Linked DNA regions of Homo sapiens: region 2 is linked to region 1. The links come from fine-mapping of genetic effects on gene expression. Tissue or cell type: adrenal gland. Region 1 holds a variant in brackets; the other region holds the start of a gene. All regions are shown on one strand. Distances are between the middles of the regions.

Region 1 (12,854 bases):
CTCAAAAGAAGACATGCAGATAGACAACAGATATATGAACAATGCTCAACATTGCTAATTATTAGGGAAATGCAAATTAAAACCATAATGTGGTATCATCTCACACCTGTCAGATAATTTTTTTCAAAAAGATGAAAGATAACAAGTGTCAGCCAGGATGTGGAGAAAAGGGAACCCTTGTACATTATTGGCAAGAATATAAGTTACGACAGCCCATTATGGAAAACACTATGGAGGGTCCTCAAAAAACTGTAAATAGAATTACTATATGATCCAGCAATCTCACTTCTGGGTATTTACCCAAAAGATTTGAAATCAACTTGTTAAAGAGGTGTCTGCACCTCCATGTTCATTGTAGTACTATTCACAATAGCCAAGGTATGGAATCAATCTAAGCGTTCATCAACATATGGATAGATAAAGAAATATGGTATATACATTAAATGGAATACTATTCAGCCTTAAAAAAGAAGGAAACTCTCATTTGTGATGGAATCAGAAAACATTATGCTAAGTGAAATGAGTTGGGCATATAAAGACAAATATTGCATGCACTCACATGGGGAATCTAAAAATCAAACTCATAGAAGCAGAAAGTAGAATGGTGGTTACAGAGACTGGGGGGTGGGGGGAATGGAAAGATGATGGTTGCTATTGTTTGAATGTCTCCTCCAAAACTCATGCTGAAACTTAATCCCCATTGTGGCAGTATGATAGGTGGGACCTTTAAGAAGTGACCAGATAGGGCTTTGCATTCATGGATTACTGGGTTAATAGATTAATAGATGATCACAGGAGGGGAACTTGTAGCTTTATAAAAAGAGGAGGAGGGACCTGAGCTGGCATATTAGCATATTCGCCCCCTTGCCGTGTGATTTCCTGTGCTACCTCAGGACTCCGCATGGAGTCGCACCAGGAAGAAGGCTCCCACCAGATGGGTGCCCTTGACCTGAGACTTCTCAGCCTCCTTAACTATAAAAAATAAATTCCTTTTCTTTATAAATTACCCAATTTCAGGTATTGTTATAAGCAACAGAATACAGACTAAGACAATAGTCAAAAGGTAGAAAATCTCAGTTTAAAAGGAAAAATACATTTTTTCTTTTTTTAAATTTGCACAGTGTAGTGACTATAGTTAATAATAGAGAATTGTACATTTCAAAATTGTTAAATTTCAAATGTTCTCACCACAAAAAATGTTAAATGTTTGAGGTAATGGATATGTTAACTAGCTTGATTTAATTATTCCACATTGTATTCATAAATTATAACACCACTTTTTACCCCATAAATGTATTCAATTATAAATGTCAATTTACAATAAAAAGGAATGAAACTATAAAACATAAAGAAAGAAAAAAAGGATATTTTTATTCAGTCTCTCAGGCCAGAACTATGGGATTCACTCTTGATAGCTTCTTCTTCACCCCTCACATCTCACAAGGGCACCGATCTGCCAAATTCTTCCTTCTAAATATTCTCCTTGAATCTGTGTGCTCTCCCCATTGCCACCTGGATACCCCCAGTGGCCTCCTAACTGGTCTCATTTCCATGTTTGCCTGCCTTCATCCTAATTTATTCTTCACTTGGCAGCCAGAAAATATTTTTTAAAAGAACTTAATTGTGTCATTCTCCTCTTTAAAGTCTTAATGGCTTTCTAATTTCCTATGAAATAAAACGGCAAACTCCTTTTTAACAAGGACTCACCAGCCAGCAGATGTGGCCTCTTTGGGCTTCTCCTGTCTCCCACTCTCAGTGCTACAGGCACCCGGGCCTTCTTTATTCCTGCCTTAGGGTTTTTGCACCCTCTGCCTGAATATTTTCCCTTGCTCTTTTCAGTTGGATCTTCTTTTCCTTTCATTCATCTCCAAACACTCAGCCTACAGTGTTTTCCTCAGTAATTCTCTCTGATTTAAAGCAATGAAACTAACTCAAAATTGTGTATATATTTGTTTGCTTGTTTTGAGTTTTGCTTAATGTCCGTCTCCCCCATTCAAATGTAAATTATATGAGGCCAGGCAGTTATAACTATTTTGTTCACCAAGGTCAATCCAATCATAGATTTTGTACATAATAGACCTTTGAATATTTATGGAATGCATGAAAATGAAACATTTCCTAAACCTTAGTCATTGACTATCATTTGATGATTTAGCCAAAGCTATGTACCACCTGTACTATAAACCTAATCATTTTCTCTAAGCTGACTGTAAATCAAGTTTTAAAAAAATAAGGTAGCTCTGTCCGAAGCACAGTGTTGGGGGAGTTGCAAGTTAGTCTAATTTTATTTTTTAATGCACATTAAAATAAATGTCTAGGTAATAAAGCAAATCTTTATCCATTATATACAATTTTCTTGTGGTAAATAAATGAGCAAGAACTTTTTAATGAATGAGAACTCCCTTCTGCCAGGTGTAGAGCAAGCTCTAGACTATTAGAAGAACTGACGCTGATTCCATTGGTGACTGTGAACAAATCATTTAAGTTTTTGGGCTTCCATTTCTTCATTTGCACTATGGAGATTAATTTTAACTGTTCTGCCCAGTTCACGTGAAGATTTAATAAGCAGTGTGAAAATCATCTTTTTACATAAACATGAAATTTTATTTTTAAAATTATTTATTTTAGAAATGGTTACTACTGCTGTTTGTTTCTTAAGGTGTTCCGTCATATTGACCCCTTACATGACATAACAAAGAAGAATAATGTATATTAGTCTCCATCACGGCCATGAGGACTAGTATAATGGGACACTGCAAATATCCTTTGACCACTGATTAACTTCTTTTCTTCCCTTACTTGCTTAATTAAATGTCTACTTAACTTTCAGTAATCATACTCCACTTAGAGAAAAACCTCCTCACAATGTGAACACCCACGTTCATAGCAGAGCTAAGAGGTGGAAGCAACCCACGTGTCCACTAATGGATAAATGCATAAGATAAATGTGGTATATACATATTGGAATATTATTCAGCTTTAATAAAGAAGGAAGTTCTGACACATGGTACAACATGAATGAACCTTGAAGACATTATGCCAAACCAGGCACAACAAGACAAATACTATATGATTCCATTTATATGAGGTATCCAGAGTCGTCAAATTCGTAGAAACAGAAAATCGAACAGTGGTCATCAGGGGCCAGGGTGCAGGAGAAATCAGCAGTTGTCATTTAATGGATATAGAGCTTCAGTTTTGCAAGATGAAAAAGTTGTGAACGTTGGTTGCACAACAAAGTGAATATATTTAACACTACTGAATTATACACTTAGACATGGTTAAAATGGCAATTTTATGTTACATATTTTTACCATAATAAAAAAAATTTAAAGCCTGCTCATAAATGGGTTTCTAGTATTTTCATGTTCTGATGTTGAATATTGCTGAGAATAGAAATTTTAAAAATAATAGTAATAGTAATAGCTAAACTTTATGGACACTTAAGTCTGTGCCAGGTAATAAGTATTTTATATTTACTATCCCATGTAATCACCACTACAGCTTTATAAGATAGATACTATCATTTACGAGGATTTTACAAAGAGAAAACAGAGGTACAGCAGGGTTATGTAACTCGTGCAAGATTACACAGCTAGCAAGCAGTGGAACCAGGACATGATCCCAGGCAGTCTGGTTTGGTTCCATACTTTTAACCACTAGGTATATCGCTCACCAAACTAGTGGTAGGTACTCTGGAGATGAATTTACCTCTAATTAGTTTTAATTAGTGAGATTTTAGAAAGGTCTCTCCACACTTTGATCTCTGCTGAATATGTATTAACTTCCCTCTTATTTTCCATCTTTCTTTCTTTCATCCTCCAAAGAAAAGACATGGTCACTTAACCATATAAATCTTAACCATAAGAATTAAAAAACCCTGTTGACCCAAACATGTGGGCAAAAGCCACTCATCGAAGTGGCTTAAAAGCTCCAACTGAAATTATTTGATCTCTTCATCATCTGCAGATATACCTTCATGTTTTTGCCTGAGTAGAAGGAAAAGTAATAAACATATCATAGAACTACTGAGAGATTTAAAGCTTAATTCTAAGTAACTAGCAGTAGCTTATATTGAAGACATATTAAACCACAACAGTCACTTCCAGAATTTAAACTATTTATTCTCAGCTTGTGTGTGATGCAAGTAGAAAAAACAGACTTCTGAATCAACAAGTTACCTAACCAGTCTGATTCAAATTTCATCATTCATAGGTATCTGAAAGGTTGTTAAGATGGTTAAGTTAGCCAGGTGCAGTGGTTTACACCTATAATCCCAGTAATTGGGCTGGCAGGGGCGGGAGGATAGCTTGAACCCCAGGAGTTCAAGACTTACCCAGGCAACATAGCACGCTCCTGTTCCCCACAAAAAGAAAAAAGCCAGCCAAAAAAAAAGAGATTAGGTTAGTTGATATATATGAACTACCCAGCACACAAGACTTGGAATACATGTGTTCAATAAGTGGTAACTTTTATTATCACCATATGTAATTATTGATTTTTCACAGTTTTAAATACAGAAACAGAATGATACAATCTTCTTGATTCCTTCCCCAGCACCCCTCCAATCCTGGTGTCTGTAGAGTATAGGGTGTTAAGAGGTTTCAGAAACCACCCCAGCCCAGACCTGGAGGAGAAGCTGTGATGACTTCTCTTCATTAGCTGAACCTCACTTTATTCTTGTGGCTGGCCCTCCACTGAGGTCTGTCTTGGAACTCCTGATGAGATTCCTGCCTTGCCCACTGCCTGCAGGTCCTAGCCAGCAACCCAGTCCTTGTGTGGCATGGGCTTCCTGCTGCTGGATCCCCGGCTCCACTGCATCACCACCACACCTCCCCAGTGTCTACCTCCCCTCTCCTGGACTGCTAACTATTTGCCACATGGGCTTGGCCAGCTGCCTGACCCCCAGGGTGGAAGAGAGCTGGGGCATGATTTGAATTGTTTTTGAATGCCTTTACTTGAGTTCTGCTTTTCTTTGAAAATAGAACTCCAGGTTTCTGATCTGGGAGGCAAACGTATTCACACCCTGGGAGCCCATTCCTAAAGCAATGGAGCCCTGACCTTCTGCCCCTCAGTGACTAGCTTGAACTTGACTTTCTCTGCTGAGCTGCTTTGGTGCCCTCCAGAAATGTGGGGGCCCAGGGCTGTTAACACATCTGACTGCTCTTTTCCCCATCTTGACAAAAGTCATTCATTTGTAACTCTTCATAGCCCTTTGTAACCGTTTCTAGCATTACTATTTCTCCTCTTCTTTCCTTCTTCGGGTAAGAAATGCCTCCAAAACCCAGATTTTGGCACAAGAACTCCTAGATTGTTTTTATAGTCCCAACGTAGCACTTCTTTGTTACAGCTTGATATTCCCAAATTTTGTTCCAAGTCTCATTATTTTACATTTATAAATATCAGGTTGTATTAATTGGTTCCAGCTTTAAAAAATGTTCCATCAGGGGTTATTTCTGCTATTTTGATAGTGGTTTCTAAATGTGGAGTGCCGAGGCCCTGGTGTGGGCCACGTTCTGTAGGCATCCCTGAAGGACTGATGTGGAACGGAAAGATCCGCAGATTCTGAGTCTTGCTGTATTCTTTGAAGACTGTACTGGCCATAATAGCTTCAAAGAATTTCAACAAGTTCCTAAGACATGACCTTCCCTTTCCGAAAATCACGTTGGCCAGGCTTGCCTTAATCAAGCTGTGCTTTTCTAAGCATCCTTTTACTTGATCTCCTGCAGCAGTTTTTAATACTTTTCCTACAAGTGAAGTTAAACTAACTGGCCTGCAATTTCCTGGTGTGTCCCTAAGCTCTATGAAATAACGGCATTAGGTTGGCTAGCTTCCAATTCTTCCAGAATTTTTTTGTTTTGTTTTAAAGCGCGGGATTGAAAAGGCCAGAGAATGCTTCCTGTCTCCCTTTTCCTTCGTTTCTTCCATGACATACTGCTCTCTCTGTTCCCAGTAGAGCTGCCATTTTAATAACTTCAAACCTCTTAAATGTTTTCACATATTATTTGTACCTATCTCTGAAGCATGAGTTTTCCATTTTTCATTCTGACAAGGGCCACCCCCAATATAAGGGCTTACAATTCTATTAAATTGACTATTAATTCAAGGCACTGTTTAAAAAATGAGTTTCATATCAGGAATCTGAAAAAGAGTGGCAAAATAGATTATAATTAAGCCTGTGTTCTCACTTGTCAATTACTAATAAATACATGTTGGAAAAGACCTGAGAAAAATTTCTATACATCCAGGAAACAGAAGTCAAAAAATGGAACTATTACATCTGGGCATACTAATCTGAGGCACTAGCATAGTGTCTTAAAGTATGGTGAAATGCATTAGATCTGAAGATCTAATTTGCATTCTACATTTTATTAAACTGCATTTGGTCCATTATTTTTAAATCTAATATCAGAAAAATCTTTCCACATTTGATGGTCTCCCGGTTGCAATAGAAAGGCCCGTAGAAATATTTTAAGATATATTTGTTAAAAAGTTATTTTAAAAATTATTTTCTTAAAAATATGAGAATTTTTTTACTGACAGGAGTAAAAAAAAAATTAATAATTATTTGCATTTACAAAATTGCACCATATCACATAATGTTTAGGATAGTTCAAGTTCTTTATTGTACAGAAACTTGGAAAATTGTTTTGAAATAAGTGAGTCATCAACTAGAGCATAAGAACTTTTATTCTTTATAGACAATTTTTGTTTCAGTAAGCTTTTCATTTTTTTTATTTTTCATTTTGTGATGACCTAATGCGTCTTTTATAAATAAGTCACAGGCACATAAATCACGGCCCATTTGTGTGGATGAAGGCTCATTTCCTGGTTGGTAGGCATGGTGACCACCATCATGAAATGAAAAGAAACATGAAGTGGAATTTAAAAACTTTTAGGATGGTTGGTTCTGATTTCAGATAAATTGGATAAGTAAA[C/T]CCCTATCAACTAGTAGCTTTTTCTGATTTACCAAAGTGATAATGTCAAACCTAAAATTTGCACATTTATCCCATAAAGTTCACTTACTGTGTATCAGATTTAGTCACAACTGGGAGAATCTTGGCATCTATGGTACACGTAGAACTCTCTCATCGAGAACATTTCAGTTGGTTTTGAATGACTACTGATATTTTCCTTTTTAATTTTGGTCAGGACTGACTATACCTGTAAATGAACAGGTCAGATTTTCTATGTGGGCCATAAAGCATACATACACAGAAAATTATTTGTGCATAGGTAGCAAGTATACTTAAGTTCAGGCATGAATCTAAACCATGTACTTTTTCCAGTGTTTGAAATGTTTCCTCATAGATTTCCATCTTTAGGATTTTAAAGTTGCCATCAAAATATGTACGGAATTCATCTTTCCTATTTAGCATATATTATACCATATAACTACAAATGTAGTACACATTAATTCGGTCTTCTCTCATTCCTATGGCCTTGCTTGAGCTATTCCCTTTTCTTAGAATGCCCTCTTCCACATTTGAAAGTCAAGATCTACCTATCCAAGGGGTAGACCAGTGAAAGATTACTTGGTTGGTGATAAAGTAGAAAAACTTGGTGCTATAGGTTTACCTTTGGTTAAATCCAAATTCTTCATTTTGCTAGTGAGCAGACTTCCTACCTTCTCTATGCCTCCATTTCCCCGTGCACACAATGGAGATTTTATCTTTCCTTTTAGAATTGTGATGTGGGCTAACTGATGTAATATATGTAAAAGATCAAAACTATCAGGACCTTTCCTTTCAAATGGCAATGTTTCCACAAAAATGTCTCTGGGTCTCACCCCTCCCTGCCAACTACCCCAGCTAATGATAATCTCATCTTCCTTTGAATTCTTATACACTTTACCTGTCTCTCAAGAACTTCACTATTTTCTGCATTGTGTTATTCACTTACGCAGCAACTATTATTGAATGCCTACCACGCGCCAGGCTTATGTCCATATACATTTTGTCCTTTTTTCTCTCTAGCTTGTTCTTAAGCTTCCTGAGGTTAGAGTCTTTGCTTCTTGAGGTTAGAGTCTTTATAATATTAATATTCCTTCCTCTCTCTTCATCGTCTGATAGTGCCTGGCACTAGTGCTTTAACGAGTATGTTTGTTAATATTCGGTAAAACCGGCTACTATATAATGCAGGCAATAAGCGTATATTTTCAAATGTGTCCATATCCTCAAGTAGGATTCACATGTGGGAAATGGTGCTTATATGCCAGTGCATGGGTTCATCTTCATCCTCATTATTAAATAATAATGAGATGATAAAGCAGTAGCCAACATTCCTGAGAATATACACAAATAATAATATTCTGTTCTCATTCCCACATGAGTTCTTGAAACAGTTCCTAGTAGAGCAAAACATGCTTTCCAAAAAGAGAATGTGAATGAACAAATGAGCTGCAGCTACGTCTCTACAGAATTACATTAGCACAAATCTAAGCAGCTTTTCAAAGAACTATGGTTTATAAATAAAGACTTTCATATATACAATGCCATGGCTAGATGAAATTCTAAGGTTTCAGGGGAAATTACACAATCTCATAATGAGGCTGTGTGTACACAACACCATGCCATCCAAATGAAAACTTGAGCAAATCACTTAGGAATGTGGTCTTTGCTAGCCCAGACATTTGGAGTCATTATTGGAAATATGCAATGTGGCTCTGACACTATTTTACTACTCATGGATGAAGTATACTATACAGAAGTCTCACTTTAGTTTGCTGCTTCTAATCAACCACAGGCTAGGAAACCAGAAAGCCTAATTGATTAAAATTGTGTTTAAAATAAGAATAACTAGGCTTTGATTTAAAGCTAACGAGAGTACCCTACAAGTAGAAGTAAATACAGGTGTTTAAATGCATGGCTGTTATATCGTGAGTTCCTTATCTCCAAAATGGAGGTTTCTAAAAAGTTACCATGTAACAAAAGGAATTTGTTAGATTATCTTTTATCTCTTCTCCCACAGTGCAGAGTTTCCTTTGAGAAATGGGATGTTGCAAGACTTTCGCTCCTCAGGAGTTTACCACTATCAAGTGTCCTAGTGTGTCTGGAGTTGATTCCTTCCAGTGGGTTCCTCGTCTCACTGACTTCAAAGAATGAAGCCACTGACTTCGTGGTGTTACAGCTCTTAAAGTTGGTGCAGATCCAAACACTGAGCAACAGCAAGAGTTGTCACAAAGAGCGAAAAAACAAATCCTCCACACTCGGCAAGGGTACACGAACCTGCTGCAAGGTGCTAGCTCAGGTGGCCAGCTTTTATTCCCTTATTTGGCCCTGCCCACATCCTGCTGATTGGTCCACTTTACAGAGCGCTGATTGGTCCATTTTACAGACTGCTGATTGGTCCATTTTACAGAGTGCTGATTGGCCCATTTTTACAGAATGCTGATTGATGCATTTACAATCCTCTAGCTAGACACAGAGCACTGATTGGTGCATTTACAATCCTCTAGCTAGACAGAAAAGTTCTCCAAGTCCCCACCCGACCCAGAAGCCTAGGCAGCTTCACCTCTCACTAGTTGGTACAACCATGCAAGATTCTAAACAGAAATAGATTCATGAGCACACTGTCCACATGTCTCAAAGGTCCAGAAGTCCCAAGAGACTTTCTGGGCCTATTCCATGGCCACCACTCGCAACTACCATGCAGCTCTGCAGGGGTTGCCAGTGACTTTTCAATTGTCTTGGGATGAGAGGTACTAGGTAGCAGAGTGCTTGAGCAGGTCCTAAATGTGAAGGGACTGAGATGGGAAATATTCCCCTCTTCTCCAGATGTGCAACCTGTCCTTGGCTGATGCTGACAAGGAGCCTGAATTTGTTTTATGGTCTTTATTAGTTTTGCTTCAGCGACTGGCATTAATGAATGTCTGGTGCACCTCAGGTTCAGTCTCCATGGCACTCCACCCACCTTCTCTTTTCTTCTGGAACCATTCAGAAGAGTGTATGTGAGCGAGTGTGGGAGGCTTATTGCCCAAATGCTCCACTGGAAGAATGTGGTAGAGCCAGATGTGAAATGGACCCCCTGAGTGAAGAATATGCAACCAAGAGTCTCAGCACATATTGGAGAGGAATGGCTTTCTAACTTAACTCTGGGTTTGTAATCTTGTGCTATCCCACATCCAAGTCAGAATGCCTGTCCAGACTAGACATCAAAACTAGGCTGCTATCATTTCTGATTTTTACTGAGTATCTGTGAAGAAGAAAGAATCTTTTGGGGGGTTAATTGATCCCAGGCCTGAGAATTGGATGTGGATTTCTATAGCCACTCACAAGAAAAATTCCAGTATTTTAAATCCACGTATCACATAATGTTTCAAGTGGAGCACACACATTCGGAACATTATAAAAAAGAGACAAAGTATATTATTTGACTGCAAAAGCACAGATAACTTTGGCATGATGGTGAGCGCCGCGTAGCAAGAGTTAATGCTATAAAATTCACAGCACTGTCTATTGTGAATAAATCCAATGAAACTTGTTCAGATAGTACTCAAGCAATACTAAATAGACCGTATGTAATCACCCAAGACCTGAGACACATAAAAACTTTATTAGTCATCACTGAAATAAAGTGCAAACAAGTTCGTCTTAGAAAGATTCAAAACTCTTTATGTTTTAGGTCGGCTGCTCCATAAAACAGTGCCTGACAAATTTTAAGTGATATTCTAATTAATCACTGGATTTTTATAGTTTCTTGAAAGCTGTAAGTTAGATATTAACAAGGCAGGGTGAGAAGAAATCCCCTTATACGGAGAATGAGTCCTACGTCCTTTGCACAAGCCCACTGGGTCAGCCAAGCCAGATTTTATACTAAGCAGCTGTTGGAAATGGAACGGACCATTAATCCGAAGAGTATCATTATTTTCATATCGATTAAAGTGGGATATAAACCGTGCACCAAGTTCACAAACTGATGGAAAATCACTGCAGCTGTACCTCTGTCTTATACAAGAAACACTTTCTGGCGCATTTTTACATTGTTTTTTTCGAGAAACTAACACTTTGTAATATACTGATCATATGACTCTCCTTAATGCTGTCACATACTCAGCAATTATCATGAGAAAGTATGACCCAATACTTTGTGTCTATAGAAGTTTCTGATTTATATTTTTCAATTATTTCAATTAGATGCAATGATGGTATAAACGATCTAGGAAATTGTATTTGTAAAGGGAAATTTTGAAATTTTAAAATTTTAAAAGGAGGCAGATTTTTTTTGTGTGTGTTCACCATCAGGAACAAATATCTCCAATGAGGAGCAGGCATTTATTTTCAAAGAATGAAATTTAAAAATGGCTATCAAATTATTACTTCAATTCTTTTTTCTAAAAACACAAAAATATCTTCTATAAACACTTTCACTTACCTCATAATATAAAGGAGCATTACCACCTACAGGTTTTTTTGCCTTTTTAGATGAAGCAGATCCAACAAGTGTATTTATTTCATTAATCTGTAAGAAAATTAAATTTACTTATGATGAAAAAAGCCTTATTTGAAGAATACTTAGATATATGTAACTTTCAAATATCTAGGTGATCTGAAGGGTTGGGGAACCTAGCAAGAAAGAGGTACCCATGAATTAGGTAAAATATTTATAGTTACTTCGTAAGCTGTCAGTAATTGTATGGGTATGTGCCACCTGGCAGATCTTTTCTATATTATTGCTGTCCTCTGACCTCTGACAGCTATGATTCTCTGTAGCCTTCATTTTCCAATTAGTCATGTACCTCCCTGGAATCTTAAATAGTCTAGTCTTTTATAATTATTTAACTTGAATTAAATATTTTGTCACAGAACCTAGCATGGTGCCTGGTATGACCTCAGAAATCTTTGTCAAATAAATGAATATTGAATTAACAAAATTAATAAACAAAAATAAATTCTTCCAGATTGAACAACTCAAATTTATTCTGGCTAAATAGTTACTTAAAATAATCCATCAAAATTTACAAAACAGCCCAAGAATATGATAGTTTATTTTATAATTCTATTCTATTATTTTAAGTAAAAAAGTCTTCAGGTGGCTTTGAGGTAGGAAGGGACAGGTACCTGCTGGAGAATGTCTTGCCACGACACCATACTGAAGAGTTTACGCTGAGGGACCTGGACAGCCACGGTAAGGGCTTGGATGAGAAGATCATCTTCAATCTGGTTCCCAACCACAAAAGCAATGGAGGCCTGCCAATCGTTCTATTAAAAATCAGACGGAATTAGATTTTAAATATTCCTGAATAGGTCATTTCGTGTCAAATATTTCCACTGAGAAGCAGAATAATTTTCCTGTAAATCTTACTTGAAAGACAGAGGTGACCTTGTAATGTATGTGGTTTTCTGATTGAAGTAGCCGCAAGGCGGCAGTATTGTGCCAAATTTCATGCAACTTGACCAAAAAACAATTTTCTGGAGAAACTAGTCCTTTTATTTTGAGGAAGACAATTTTTTAAAACGACACTTTCACTAGAATGTTGTCCAAGAATAATCTGGTGTTGGAAAGCAATCATTCATTCCTATGTCACAAATATACATTAAGATGTCTCAAAAAACAGGAATCTTTATTTTGTTCCCTGGTATATCCCAAGACTCTAAATAGTGGTAGGAATATAAAAGCAGCTGAAAAAAACTGTTAAATGTTGGGTCATATTGGATGAGCTGCCAAATGAGAACTGAACCACATCTTTTTCTCTTAATGTAACACAGGAATCTTACTGCTAATTACACTCCCAAGAAATGGGCAAAAATATTACACTTGGACATGAAATTTTGCATCAAATAATTTTAAAAAATTAGTTACTAAAGAATTACATGCAGTACTTTTTTCTCTTTGTTTATTGTAATTGTAATTTC
Region 2 (12,854 bases), 38 kb after region 1:
ACAGATCAATGGAATAAAACAAGTTGGTTTTTTTGAAAAGATAAACAAATTGTCAAATCTTTAGCTAGACTAAGAAAAAAGAGAGAAGAGCCAGGTAAATAAACTTGGAAACAAAATAGGAGATATAACAACTAAGACCACAGAAATGCAAAGAATCATGAGAGACTATTATGAACAACTGAACACCAACAATTGGAAAACCTAGAAGAAATGGATAAATTCCTAACACATACAACTTACTGAGATTGAACCATGAATAAATAGATAATTTTAACAAACCAATAATGAATAATAAGATTGAAGCTGTAATAAAAAATTTCCCACCAAATAAAACCCCAGGACATGACAGCTTCATTGCTGAATTCTATTGAACATTTAAAGTAAAACTCTTACCAATTCTACTCAAATTCTTCAAAAAAATTGAGAAAAAGAGAATACTTCCAAACCTACTCTGTGATGCCAGCATTACCTTGATACCAAAACCACATAAAGAAACAACAACGTAAAAGGCTATAGGTCAGTATCACTGATAAAGTGATAAATATCATTAAAATGGCCAAAACCGCAATTACTTTTGCACCAACCTAATACTAGCAAACCAAATTCAACAACACATTAAAAAGATAATTTACCATTATCAAGTGGAATTTATGTCAGGAATGCGAGGATGGCTTAACATATGTAAATCAAGAAACATGATACATTGTATGAACAGAACCAAGAACAAAACATATATGATCATTTCAATAGATGATGAAAAAGCATTTGACAAAATTTAACATCCCTTTAGGATGAAAACCATAAAAAACTGGGTGTAGAAGAAACATACCTCAAATGATAAAGGCCAAACCCTCAGCTAAAATCATACTGACCAGGAAGAAATGGAAAGCCTTTCCTCTAAGATCTGGAATAGGATGAAAAGGATGCTGAATTTTACCACTTTTATTCAATATAATGCTGGAAATCTTGGCCAGAACAATTAGGCAAGAGATAGAGATGAAGGACATCCAAATTGAAAAGAAATATGTCAAATTAGCATTGTTCACAGACATGATTTCATACTTAGAAAAATCTAATGACTTCACCAAAGAGACTGTTAGAACTGATATATTCAGTAAAGTTGCAGGATACAAAATCAACATTCAGTAAAGTTGCAGGATACAAAATCAACATACAGCAATCAGTAGCACTTATATTCACCAGCAGCATACAATCTGAAAAAAAATCAATAAAGTAAGCCCATTTGCAGTAGTGATAAAATGCCTAGGAATCAATTTTATCAAAGAAATGAAAGATCTATACAAGTAAAACTAGAAAACACTGATGTAAGAGATTGAAGAGGATATACACCAAAAAGAAAAGATATCCCATGCTCATGGATTGGAAGAATTAATACTGTGAAAATATCCATACTATCCAAAATAATTTACAGTTATGCAATCCCTATTAAAATACTAATGACGGTCTTCACAGAAATAGAAAAAAAATCCTAAAATTTACATGGAACCACACAAAACCCAGGAGAACCAAAGGATTCTTAAGCAAAAAGAGCAAAGCTAGAGGCATCAAACTGATTTCAAAATATAGTAAACAAATCTGCATGGGACTCACATAAAAATGGACACATAGACCAATGGAACAGAATAGAGCACTCAGATATAAATACACGAATTTGTAGTAAACTCATTTTCAACAGCAGTGCCAAGAGCTTACAATAGGAAAGGACAGTCTCTTCAATAAATGGGAAATAAATGCTGGGAAAACTGGATATCCATATGCAGAAGAATGAAACTAGACCCCTGTCTCTCTCCATAAACAAAAATCAAATCAAAATGGATTGCAGACTTAAATCTAATACCTGAAACTATGAAATTATTAGAAGAAAACATTGGAGAAATGTTTCAGGACATTGGTCTAGGCAAGTATTTTTTTGTGTAAGACCTCAAAAGCATATGCAACCAAAGCAAAAATAGAGAAGTGGGATCATATCAAGTTAAAAAGCTCTGCACAGCAAAGAAAACAATCAACAAAGTGAAAAGACAACTCATGGAGTGGGAGAAGATATTTGCAAATTATCCATCTGACAAGGGATTAATAACCAGGTATTTAAGGAGCTCAAACAACTAAATAGGAAAAAACCCCAAATAATCTGATTTAAAAATAGGCAAAGGATTCAAATAGACATTTCTCAAAAAAGATGTACAAATGACCAAAAGGTATATGAAAAGATGCTCAACATCGCTAATCATCAGATAAATGCAAATCAAAACTACAATGAGATATCATCCCACCCTAGTTAAAATGGCTTTTATCAAAAAGACAGGGAATAATGAGTGTTGGCAGGGATGTGGAGAAAGAGGAACTCTTGTATACTGCTGATGAGAATGTAAATTAGTACAGACACTATAGAAAACTGTAGGGAGATTCCTCAAAAAACTAATAGTAGAACTACCATATAATCCGGCAGTTCTGCTACTTGGTATATAGCCAAAATAAATGATATCAATGTATCAAAGAAAGATTTGCACTTCCATGTTTATTGCAGCAGTATTCACAATAGCCAAAGTATGGAATCAATCTAAGTTCCCATCAACAGATGAATCAATAAAGAAAACTGTATATATGCAGTACATATACACAATGAAATACTATTCAGCCATACAATATGAAATCTTGTCCTTTATAGCAACAAGGATGGAACTGGCGTTCATTATGTTAAGTGAAATAAGGGAAAGATGAATATCGTATGTTCTCACTCTTATGTAGGAAATAAAAAAGTAGATCTCATGAAGATAAAGAGTAGAGTGACAGTTATCAGAGGCTGGGAAAAGTAGCGAAGCCAGGGCATAGAGTTTGCTTAATGGGTACAAATATAGAGTTTGATAGAAGAAATAAGTCCTAGTGTTTAATAGATCAGTAGAGTGACTATAATTTACAATAATCTATCATATATTTCAAAAAAGCTAGAAGAGAATAATTGGAATGTTTCTAGTATAAAGAAAAGACAAATATTTAAAGTGATGAATATCCTACTTATAGTCATTTGATCTTTTCAAACTATATGATTGTATTAAATTATGACATGTACCTCTAAAATGTGTACCTCTATTACGTATGAATACAAAAATAAAATTGATAAAAAAATTTTAAAGGGAGTCCTTGAAGTTGAAATGAAGGATGCTAGATAGTAGCTGAAAGCTATAAAAAATATAAATTTCTTTGGTAAAAAAATGCATGGACAAATTTATTTTTAACAGTATTATTGTAATCTGATTTGCAAATCCACTTTATTTTCTACAGGAGTTAAAGAAAAATGTATAAAATTAATTATAAATCTATGCTAATGGGTACATAGTATATAAAGATGTAATTTGTGACATCATAAGTCATGCAGAAGGTGAAGCTGTAAAGTGAATTTATATAAGCAATTGATATTAAGTTAGTATCAATTTAAGACAGATTATTATAATTTTATGATATATGTAATCCCCATGGTAACCACAAAGAAAATATCTATAGAATATACACAGAAGAAAATGAAAAGGCATTCTAAACATGTCACACAAAAAAATCAACTAAACAAAGGCACCAATGGAGGTAACAAAGGACAAAAAAATCTGTCAGGCATATAGAAAAGAAATAATAAACTAGCAAAAGTAAGTCTTTTCATACCAGTAATTACTTTAAATGTACATGTATTAAACCCTACAATAATAAAACAGAGACTGGCAGAATGGATTAAAAAAAAAACAAAACTACTCAGAATCCAAGTATATGCTGTGTGCAGAGATTCACTTTAGCTCTAAGGATATGCATAGGTTGAAAGTGAGGAACAGACAAAGATATTCCATGCAAATATTAATAGTAACCAAGAGAGAGCAGGGGAAGTTAAGCAACTATTACACACAAAAAAAGACTTTAAGTCAAAAGTTGTTACAAGAGACAAAGAATAAAGACACTCAACATCACTTATCATTAGAGAAATGAACATCTAAACCACAGTGAGCTATCATCTCATATCTGTTAGGACAGCTATTATTAAAAAATCAAAAACAAAACCAAAAAATGAACAAAAACAAACCTCACCAAAAAATAAATAAATAAAAAATAAAAAGTGCTGGCACAGATGTGGTGAAATGGAAATCCTTGTACATTGTTGGTGGGAATGCAAAATGATGTAGCCACTGTGCAAAATGATATGGTAGTTCCTCAAAAAATTAAATCTGGGCACAGTGGCTTAATCCTGCAATCCTAGCACTTTGAAAGCCCGAGGTGGAAGGATTGCTTGAGTCCAGGAGTTTGAGATCAGCCTGGGCCACACAGACCCCGTCTCAAAACAAAATTAAATACAGAATTATCATATGATCCAGCAATTCTACTTCTGTACACATACCCAAATGATTTTAAAGCAGAGACTCCAACAGATTTTAGCACACCCACAGCCAAGAGGTGAAAGCAACCCAAGTGCCCATCAATGAATGAATGAATAAATAAAATGTAAAAAGTAAGGAAATTCTGAGACATGTTACAATATGAATGAACCTTGAAGACATTATGTTAAGTAAAAATAAGAGTCACAAAAAGACAAATACTACATGATTCCACTTACATGAAGTACCTAAAGTAGTCAAATTTGGAGAGAAAGAAAGTACAATGGCAGCTTCCAGGGGGTGAGGAGAGGGAAGGATGGGGAATTAATATTGTTTAAATAGTACCGAGTGCTAAGGTTAACACTTCTTCCTATCACTGTGGCCAATAGAGCCTGCCTTGACCATTGCATGGAAAGATTTTAATCTCTATGATACCAAGGCATCTTTGACTTTCTAATGCTGCTAGAGATCATAAATATAATGTCTATGTCACATACATACTAACACAAAAGGGTATTTTTATCTTATTGCCAATGTACCTATTTTCTTTTTATATAATTTGAGATGTGATATTTCACTCATATCAGTAAGTTAAATATTTTGGTATATGGATAGCAAAGATAGTAAATGACCATTTCCTTGACGGAATTAATTTAGGAGCAACGTAGACCCAGAAGTGGTCTAACGTACATTTTTCTCCCAATCTAAATGTATCAGATTTACTTGGTGCACATATTAGTCTCCCTACTTAAAATAATCATGCTTCTTCATTCTACCTGTTCAAATTCCACCCATTATTTAGAGCCCAGGTGAAGGCAAATATTTTACAAATCATTTCCTGACTATCCCAGCCCATATTCATCTTCCTAACCTCTAGTCTCTATTTAATCATTTAGTGCTTAGTGATAGAATGCTTTGTATTATTTGCTATCATTTTATATTTTAAAACCAACTAAAATGTATGAAACAACTGATAATTATTCCAGCCTGAAAGGACAACCTGAGACAGTGATACAAGGTAAATTCAATAAAACCAAAATGTGAACTTGTTTATTCTCTTTAAAGCCTACCCAACATGAACATGAGTTCAAAAATACTATTGATTTGGGTTATCCAATGAGTTACTTCTAAAAACTTGTTTATGGAAGACTGGAGGAATTCTTTCCTTCTCTCTCACCCCCAGCACACACACATAATACAACACATAAACTAGCACACACACTCAACCACACATACTTGGACATGAGTAACAAGTGTATGGAAAGAAACTCTCTGGATACTAAAACAATAGAGCACACTACGTGTGCTCAAAATTCACACACCCACAGTCATCTATAACCTAAATTCAGAGTCCGTTTCATTGGTGGTTAGGGCACGCCTCTGGGCATTGAACTGCTGGGTTAATCTGGGAATTATTCTTTTAGATCAGACATGAAATCAAGCAGAGAAAAATGAGAGAGGAGGTGGAGGGTAGTTGTCTTTTTCCTGCAATAAGAAAATGTGTATTCCAACAAACTGAAGAAAATTGAGTTCACTGTTTATAGTTAAAACTACATATTACTTTGAGTTCAAATTCTTTCTATTAATACATAAGATTTATTGAAGTTATATTGTTTGAGTAGGATCAAGAAAGCTGAATATTATTTCAGGTTTTCAAGCCATAAGGACAAATAGTGCCTTTAGGTTTTCCATTCAACTAGGAAAATTATAGCTTCATATTTGCAACACTAAAGCTAATGCAGTGTCAGCACCTCCATCAAACTCCGTTGTTCAGCAGTTTATAATTCAAGCAGAAATGTTCACTCCAAGACCAAACTTGGCCTACACAATCTCAAAGAAAATGGAGAAAAAATTATTTTGGCTAGCGCTGACTTATAAAAGCAAAAGAGAGGGTGCTTTTACAAAGTGCTTTGAAAAACATCTTTGAGAATTTGAGAATGTAACTGGGGATTACTGAGTTGACATCCAGCATTACTAAAGTTATAGAAAGGACCCAAAATTCCATGACATCACATCAGCATCAGGAGTATCACAACTACTTTCATGAAATTCTTCATCAGGACTAATTTCCTTATCAAACAGAATTACTGTTAATAGGAAAAAAAAACAGTTATAGTGGAAAATAAAGACAGGTAAAAATTTCTCATGAAGGCAACACAAGACTTTAGATCCATTTTCCCTTTAAGTACTGACTCTCTAGTGCACCATACAGACATATATAAAATGAAAAAAAAATTTTTTTTCCCCACTTTTCAAAGTAGTTCATAATGGCGGGCTGGAATTTCCAGAAACAACTTTTCTCTTCCCAAATGCTAACTTGTACGTAGAAACAGCTTAATGTAGAAGGGGATTTCCAGCTGCAGGTGACAAGAGCTATTGGGCTCCTCATTTACTGAAGCTGGGTGGGGAGCCAGTGAATTCTGGGATCTCATGCACTTTGAAGTCCTGTGGTAGGTGGTTTGTAGATTGCCTGGTGCCTTTGTGGCATTCTGTGGGTAAGTTGGCCGCCAACCCCTCATTGCTCTGATCTCCCACACCTTAAAAATATGTCAAAACTTTAATATAGTGGGATCAGGGCATTACATTAAAAAATCATCTTTTCCTATCTATACAAGGCTCGCTTGTACTAAATACAGTGTAATTCTAGGCACTCCGTGTCTGTTTTCACTCAGCATTTATTAAAGCCCTATTATGGGCCAGGCCACAGATGATTTGATGCGATTCTCATCCTTTAGAAGGTTTCAGGAGAAAACAAAAAGTCCATAAAAGGAATTCCAGTACAATTGTGGAGTGCCATCTGGACGACTTCACTGAAAAGGTTCTGGAGGTGTCAGAGCGACACCTCCTCTCTTCCCCACTAGGCAGTTCTCACCAACCTTTGAAATCACACTGACTCACCTGGTGGGTGTTCCCTTAAGTTCCGTTCGTTTATCAAGCACTTCCTGTCCCTGGGACCCTGGGTCCTGGAACCATCAGGCCACGGAGAGATACGGAAGAGAGGGCGAGCCTTAAGGCGTCGCCTAGGAGGGTCTGGCCGGGCCTCTGGCATTGCCGGGGGCAGGGAGGGCTTAAAGGGCTCAAGGCTCACCTGATTGAACTGTGCAGCTATGAGCGAGGGTTCCCATATCTTAGAACTGGTGTTCACAGTTCCTCCTTTCTCCTTCTTGGGTGCCATGCAAAGGACGGGAGAAGCATTGGCCTCTAAACTGGGCGCAGGCCCTGCCTAAGCGTCCCCGCTACCACAGTAACCGAAGCCACGCCCAGTTCCTGAACCACGTCGGCTCCCCTCCCCCAACACCGTTCGGAATCCTTGGGTCAACCGCCTCCGTCTCCACAGCAACGGAGTTTCAGAGCGCGCGGCAGCTTGGGGGCGGGGTTCCCAGTCCCCCGGTCAAATTTTAGGACTTTTCAGCAGGAAAGCTGCACAACTGGAGGAGGGCAGGACGAGGCTGGCCTCGCAGGTCGGGCTACGTTCTTCTACGGTCTGAGGCGTTGTCTAGAAACTCAAAATCTCTGGAATCCCATCCAGGACTCCTCCATCAAGATTTCTTCCGATCCTGAGTAACCAAGATTGGAATACTGACCCCTTCAGGAGGCAGCCCATGCCGTTTTTTCCCAACCGCTCTAATCTGCCCCAAATGCTTCCTTATATGAATCCAAATTTGTCTCTCCTTGACCTCTACCCTCTGCACTGTTTCAGCCTCCGCCTCTGGGGCCTTACTAAACAAGTCCAATCACCCTTCCACGTGACCCCTTATCTAACTGTAGGTGGGATTAATGTACTTATCTGCCCAAACAGCTCCAGTCCTTTAAACTGCCTTTTATTGATTGGTAAGTAGACTTTTTTTTCCCCTTTTTTCCCACCCTGCACTCATCAATATCTAAAATATCCTGGTTGGACAAGTTTCCCAAAATAATGATAGTAATAAAAACCATTGTTTCTTGGGCACTGGTTATATGCTATATACAAGATTATTTCATTTAATTCTCACAACCACCTTATCCAATTCCCACAGTGTCTGATTGATGGTGCCAGGATTAGATCCCAGGATTATCTGAGTCACAGATCTAGTGTGCATAACTGCTACACTGCTGTCTACTACTGTTTTAGGCCTGCCAAAATGAGGGATACCCCCTTCTGGAGCTAGATTTACTTTTGTTTTTTATTGCAGTGAGACAAATTTGAGGACACCCTGGGGCAGAGCGCAACCAAAGGTGCCTTGCGGTCTCATTAGTCATATGGAATTCAGCACTGACCAGGGCTTAACTAGCCATTAAGGCCCTGCACTTTGCCTAGAGGTGAGATGCTTCAGTTATCCCAGTGGCCCAGATGAGTGAGGTGATGCAAGCCAGAAACTTAATTTCCCTGGGCACAACCTGATGAACGGGTGACCTTCCACGGGGGATGTTCTAAACCTTTTAATTGCTAACCCTTTTAATTTCTTTGAGGAATAAATTGAGGGAAGGAGGATAGTGCTATCCAGCCACTAGCATCCTTTTTCATTTGGGGGCAAATTTTAATGATGATGCTTCAACTTTTGTTCGTAATTTGGACCATGAAAGGAAGTTTATCTTTCCACCCTAATTCTTTAATATAGTTAGAGTGAGCCCTCCCATCATCACAGTTCTTCATCCCTGGATTTAACCAACTTTGGATCCAAAATATTAAAACATAAATAAATATACAAATAAAAATACAGCATAACAACTATTTTACAGCATTTACATAATATTAGATATTATAAATAATCTAGATATGATTTAAAGTGTAGGAGAGGATGTGCGTAGGTTATGTGCAAATACTAGGCCATTTTATTGAGAGGTGAAGCCAGCTGGACTTCCTGGGTTGAGTGGGGACTTGGAGAACTTTTCTTACAACAGGATTGTAAAATGCACCAATCAGCACTCTGTAGCTAGGATTGTAAAATGCACCAATCAGTGCTCTGTAGCTAACAAGGGGATTGTAAAATGCACCAATCAGTGCTCTGTAAAAATGCACCAATCAGTGCTCTGTAAAATGCACCAATCAGCACTCTGTAAAATGCAGCAATCAGCAGGATCCTAAAAGTAGCCAATCGTAGTGACGATTGAAAAAAGGGCGCTCTGATAGGACAAAAACAAAACATGGGCGGAGACAATAAGGGAATAAAAGCTGTCCACCACCAACCAGCAGCGGCAACCTGTTGGGTCCCCTTCAATGCTGTGGAAGCTTTGTGCTTTTGCTGTTTCACTCTTCACAAAAATCCTTGCTACCACTCACTCTTTGGGTCTGTGCCATCTTTTTTTTTTTTTTTTTTTTGAGATGGAGTCTCACTCTGTTTCCCAGGCTGGAATGCAATGGTGGATCTCGGCTCACTGCCAGCTCTGCCTCCCAGCGGAGGCAGACTGGGTTCACAACAGTCTCCTGCCTCAGCCTCCTGACTAGTTGGGACTACAGGCGCCCAGCACCACACCTGTCTAATTTTTGTATTTTTAGTAGAGATGGGGTTTCACTGTGTTAGCCAGGATGATCTCCATCTCCTGACCTCGTGATCCTCTCACTTCAGCCTCCCAAAGTGCTGGGATTACAGTCGTGAACCACCGCACCCGGACAGGGTCCATGCCATCTTTAAGAGCTATAACACCGTGGAAGCCTGGGCTTCATGCTCGAAGTCAGCGATACCATGAACCCACCGGCAGGAACCAAATGCAGACACATCATTAAGGGACTTGAATATCAGACATTTTTCTATCTGAGAACGTGAAGGGTCCTGGAACTAATTCCCTGTGGATACCAAGGGACCATTGTATTAAAGAAAAATAATTTCTAGAAACAGTCTTTCACAGAAACTTTACAGAAAAATACGAGTTTTTATTTCTTGCTGGAATAAATACAGTTCATCTTCTTGGGAGGGAATAGATAGATCCTATGGCAGCCTGGCCATAGGCTAAATAATTTACATCTGGAAGCCCTCTTTTGTCATGAAAATAAAATAACTGATGCATGGTAATGCCAGAGAGAGATCTGCCAGAAAAGAATTTTCCTGAGAGTCTATAACAACACCGAGGCTGCTGTTAATTTTCATAGCATTTTCTCCAAAATTTTGTTCCTCACCAAAATTTTTTCAGCATTTGTAAGATGAAAATTTTCTTTGTATTATGGCTAGAAAATAAAGTTGAGTCTCTTTCAGACCAAAAAAAAAAAAATCTACCTAATCATTAATTAGATCATTCTAAATTTTGATTAAGTTCTCATAGTTTTAAACTGGGGGAAAAAAAGTCCTGCCTTTTTATTTAAAACGTAGTAAAAAGTTTGTTGGCATTCCGGGATATTTTATTAAAAAATTTAGCTGTTTGTGCGTGTCTCGCTACATTACTAATATTCTTTCTTCTTGAATGTGAACGCACACTTCAAAATAAACCATTACCTGCAATCAGTTTTGCCAGATCACTAGCAGATGATTAATAAAATACGTTGCAGATAAGAAGAGGAAAAAATAGAATAAGCAGAAAAAAAGTAAAATTAAGTGTTATTTAAAAATTGCAGAGATAGTGTCACTAGCCATTTTTTTTAACAAGTGACAGCTGTCCAACCACAATATTGGCAGCAGTAAGATGTTTGCAATATTTATTGTGACAGAAACTATCCAGTTGTTCATCAGACATTTCCTTTTATTTTCTCCTAATATGGGAGTCAGACATTTTTTGGCCTTCCTTATTCTTAGATGTGAACATGTGACTGAGTTCTAGCCAAGCCTGGCCTTGAAAAATGTCCCCCAGCATTCTTCATACCCTTTTTGCTTGATATTGGGGTGGCATTGAAAACCTTGAATCTCTGAATGATTGCTGTGACACAGAGGTCTCTCCTTCCCCTGAAGATCATCTTGCTCCTCCCACCAAAAGCATTTGCTTGGGACTATTATGTAGGTGAGAATTAAACATTTTTCTTAAAGCTGCTGAAGTACTGGGGTTTGCTACAGCAGCAAGGGTTACCGTAACTACCCTAACATTTTTTATCATTTTCATCTGAGAATCACCTGTTAATAAATCTAACACCAGCCAGCCTTTCTGAAACTGCCTGAGAGAAAAACCTTGTTACTTTCAAGGAGGCAATACACAATGCTGGCCACTGTGAGAGGCAGGAAGATCTAATCCCTACCTCCCCACTACCCCATGCATCTAGTGAGATCTCGATCTCACCCTTTACCTTGCTTTCCATTTGCATATACAGTACATTCTTTCGCTTCTTTATCTAGTAAATAAATTTCTTACTTTAAACAAATGGTTTGCATAGTTAAGTAATACAAGAAACTAGTCTTATATCACCTATACTTAGGAAAAAATGTTCCTATTTTTCGGAAGATAAACCAACTAGATCCATCACCTAGCTATCCATATACATCATTTATAATTTTGAAAATGATTTAAAGGAGTTGAACATTTTAAAAGCCAAAAATAAATATTTCAGAATGGAAGAGTGTATTTCTAATATAATCTTTTATAGTTTCCTTGGTAAAGTCCTACCAGAAAACATTTAAATATAAAAGGTTTTCCAAAATTGATTTAAGGAGTTTAAAATAAAGGTTTTATTACAGAATGCTTTTTGCCCAGTTTTGGCCTTTTCCATTATTCTAGGGAAAGTGGTGCTCTAGATAATTTATGATACAAAATGGGAAGATATTATACAGTAACCAAATTTATAAGGGGTTTCGTCATAGAATTGGTCTGTTTAATTTCAGAAAATAGGTGTGAATGACAATGTTCACAATTTGAAGTAGCAAAAGTCATTCAGCCAAAAAAGGACCCTGCCAAGAACAGAAAAAAAGCATTACCATCTGTCATACGTTTATGCTTTTTTGGTATAATAAATTGTTTCCCCCACTAAATATAAGTTGAAACTTTATAAGCATATACTTTACTACATAAATTTTCCCATATGTCAGTGGCTAAAACAAAACTATACTATTTGGAAAATTTTCTTTCACATTGGCAGGGTTACTCCTGGTTTGTTTGATTTAGTTTTTCCAGTATGAGTTTGCATTTGATATGTTTAGCTTACCAAAGACTGTCCACTTTCAGGGATGCATGATTTCTTTAGGCTATGATTACTAAATAAGTTATTTCTTCAAGTATTATGCTTTGATCTTATAATTCACTCTTACTCAGGTGTGAAGTCAGCCATATTACTTTTCATACTTGAAAGGTTTAGCCAACTATTGATGCATCCAGTACTTCCATTGTTGTCAGGTAACAGCAGGAACTATAGACCAAGTCACTTCTAGGCCAGGATTCCAGGTATTCAAAATCCATTTAGCTGCAGCAACCAACTTGCCTTGGGTTAAGAAGGCCTCACAGATGTCTACTGATTTCTCCAGTTGGTATCCTACATCCAAGAACACCTCTCGGTATACATATGTCTTGTTCACACCATGATCTTTGCATTTCTAACCTTCAAAATAGAGTGCTATAATGCCCTGTCTTTGAGTTTTTATTGTGTGTGATACA

Which allele goes with the higher level. Alleles are on the strand shown, and positions count from the first base shown. SD is a standard deviation of normalised expression in the study named.
In carriers of allele T in region 1, the expression in adrenal gland of the gene that starts at base 7,616 in region 2 tends to be higher than with C alone (large effect, 1.2 SD a copy in GTEx).

What was found. PIP is the estimated chance that this variant, and not a neighbour inherited with it, causes the effect.
Region 2: it holds the start of SPAG17, and the variant in region 1 is fine-mapped to the expression of SPAG17 in adrenal gland (GTEx, PIP 0.96).

The regions. Positions count from the first base shown.
Region 1 is chr1:118,139,170-118,152,023 of GRCh38, forward strand. SPAG17 (sperm associated antigen 17) reads right to left here. Exons shown (of 49, transcript NM_206996.4): 2 at 12,060-12,200; 3 at 11,374-11,460. Among named protein-coding and RNA genes, the nearest start is that of SPAG17, 40 kb to the right of the region's middle. The variant C/T (reference allele first, on the strand shown) is at 6,939.
Region 2 is chr1:118,177,613-118,190,466 of GRCh38, forward strand. SPAG17 (sperm associated antigen 17) reads right to left here and starts at 7,616. Exons shown (of 49, transcript NM_206996.4): 1 at 7,459-7,616. The coding sequence starts at 7,545. LOC105378930 (a long non-coding RNA gene) reads left to right here and starts at 7,618. Exons shown (of 4, transcript XR_947746.3): 1 at 7,618-8,201; 2 at 8,543-8,669.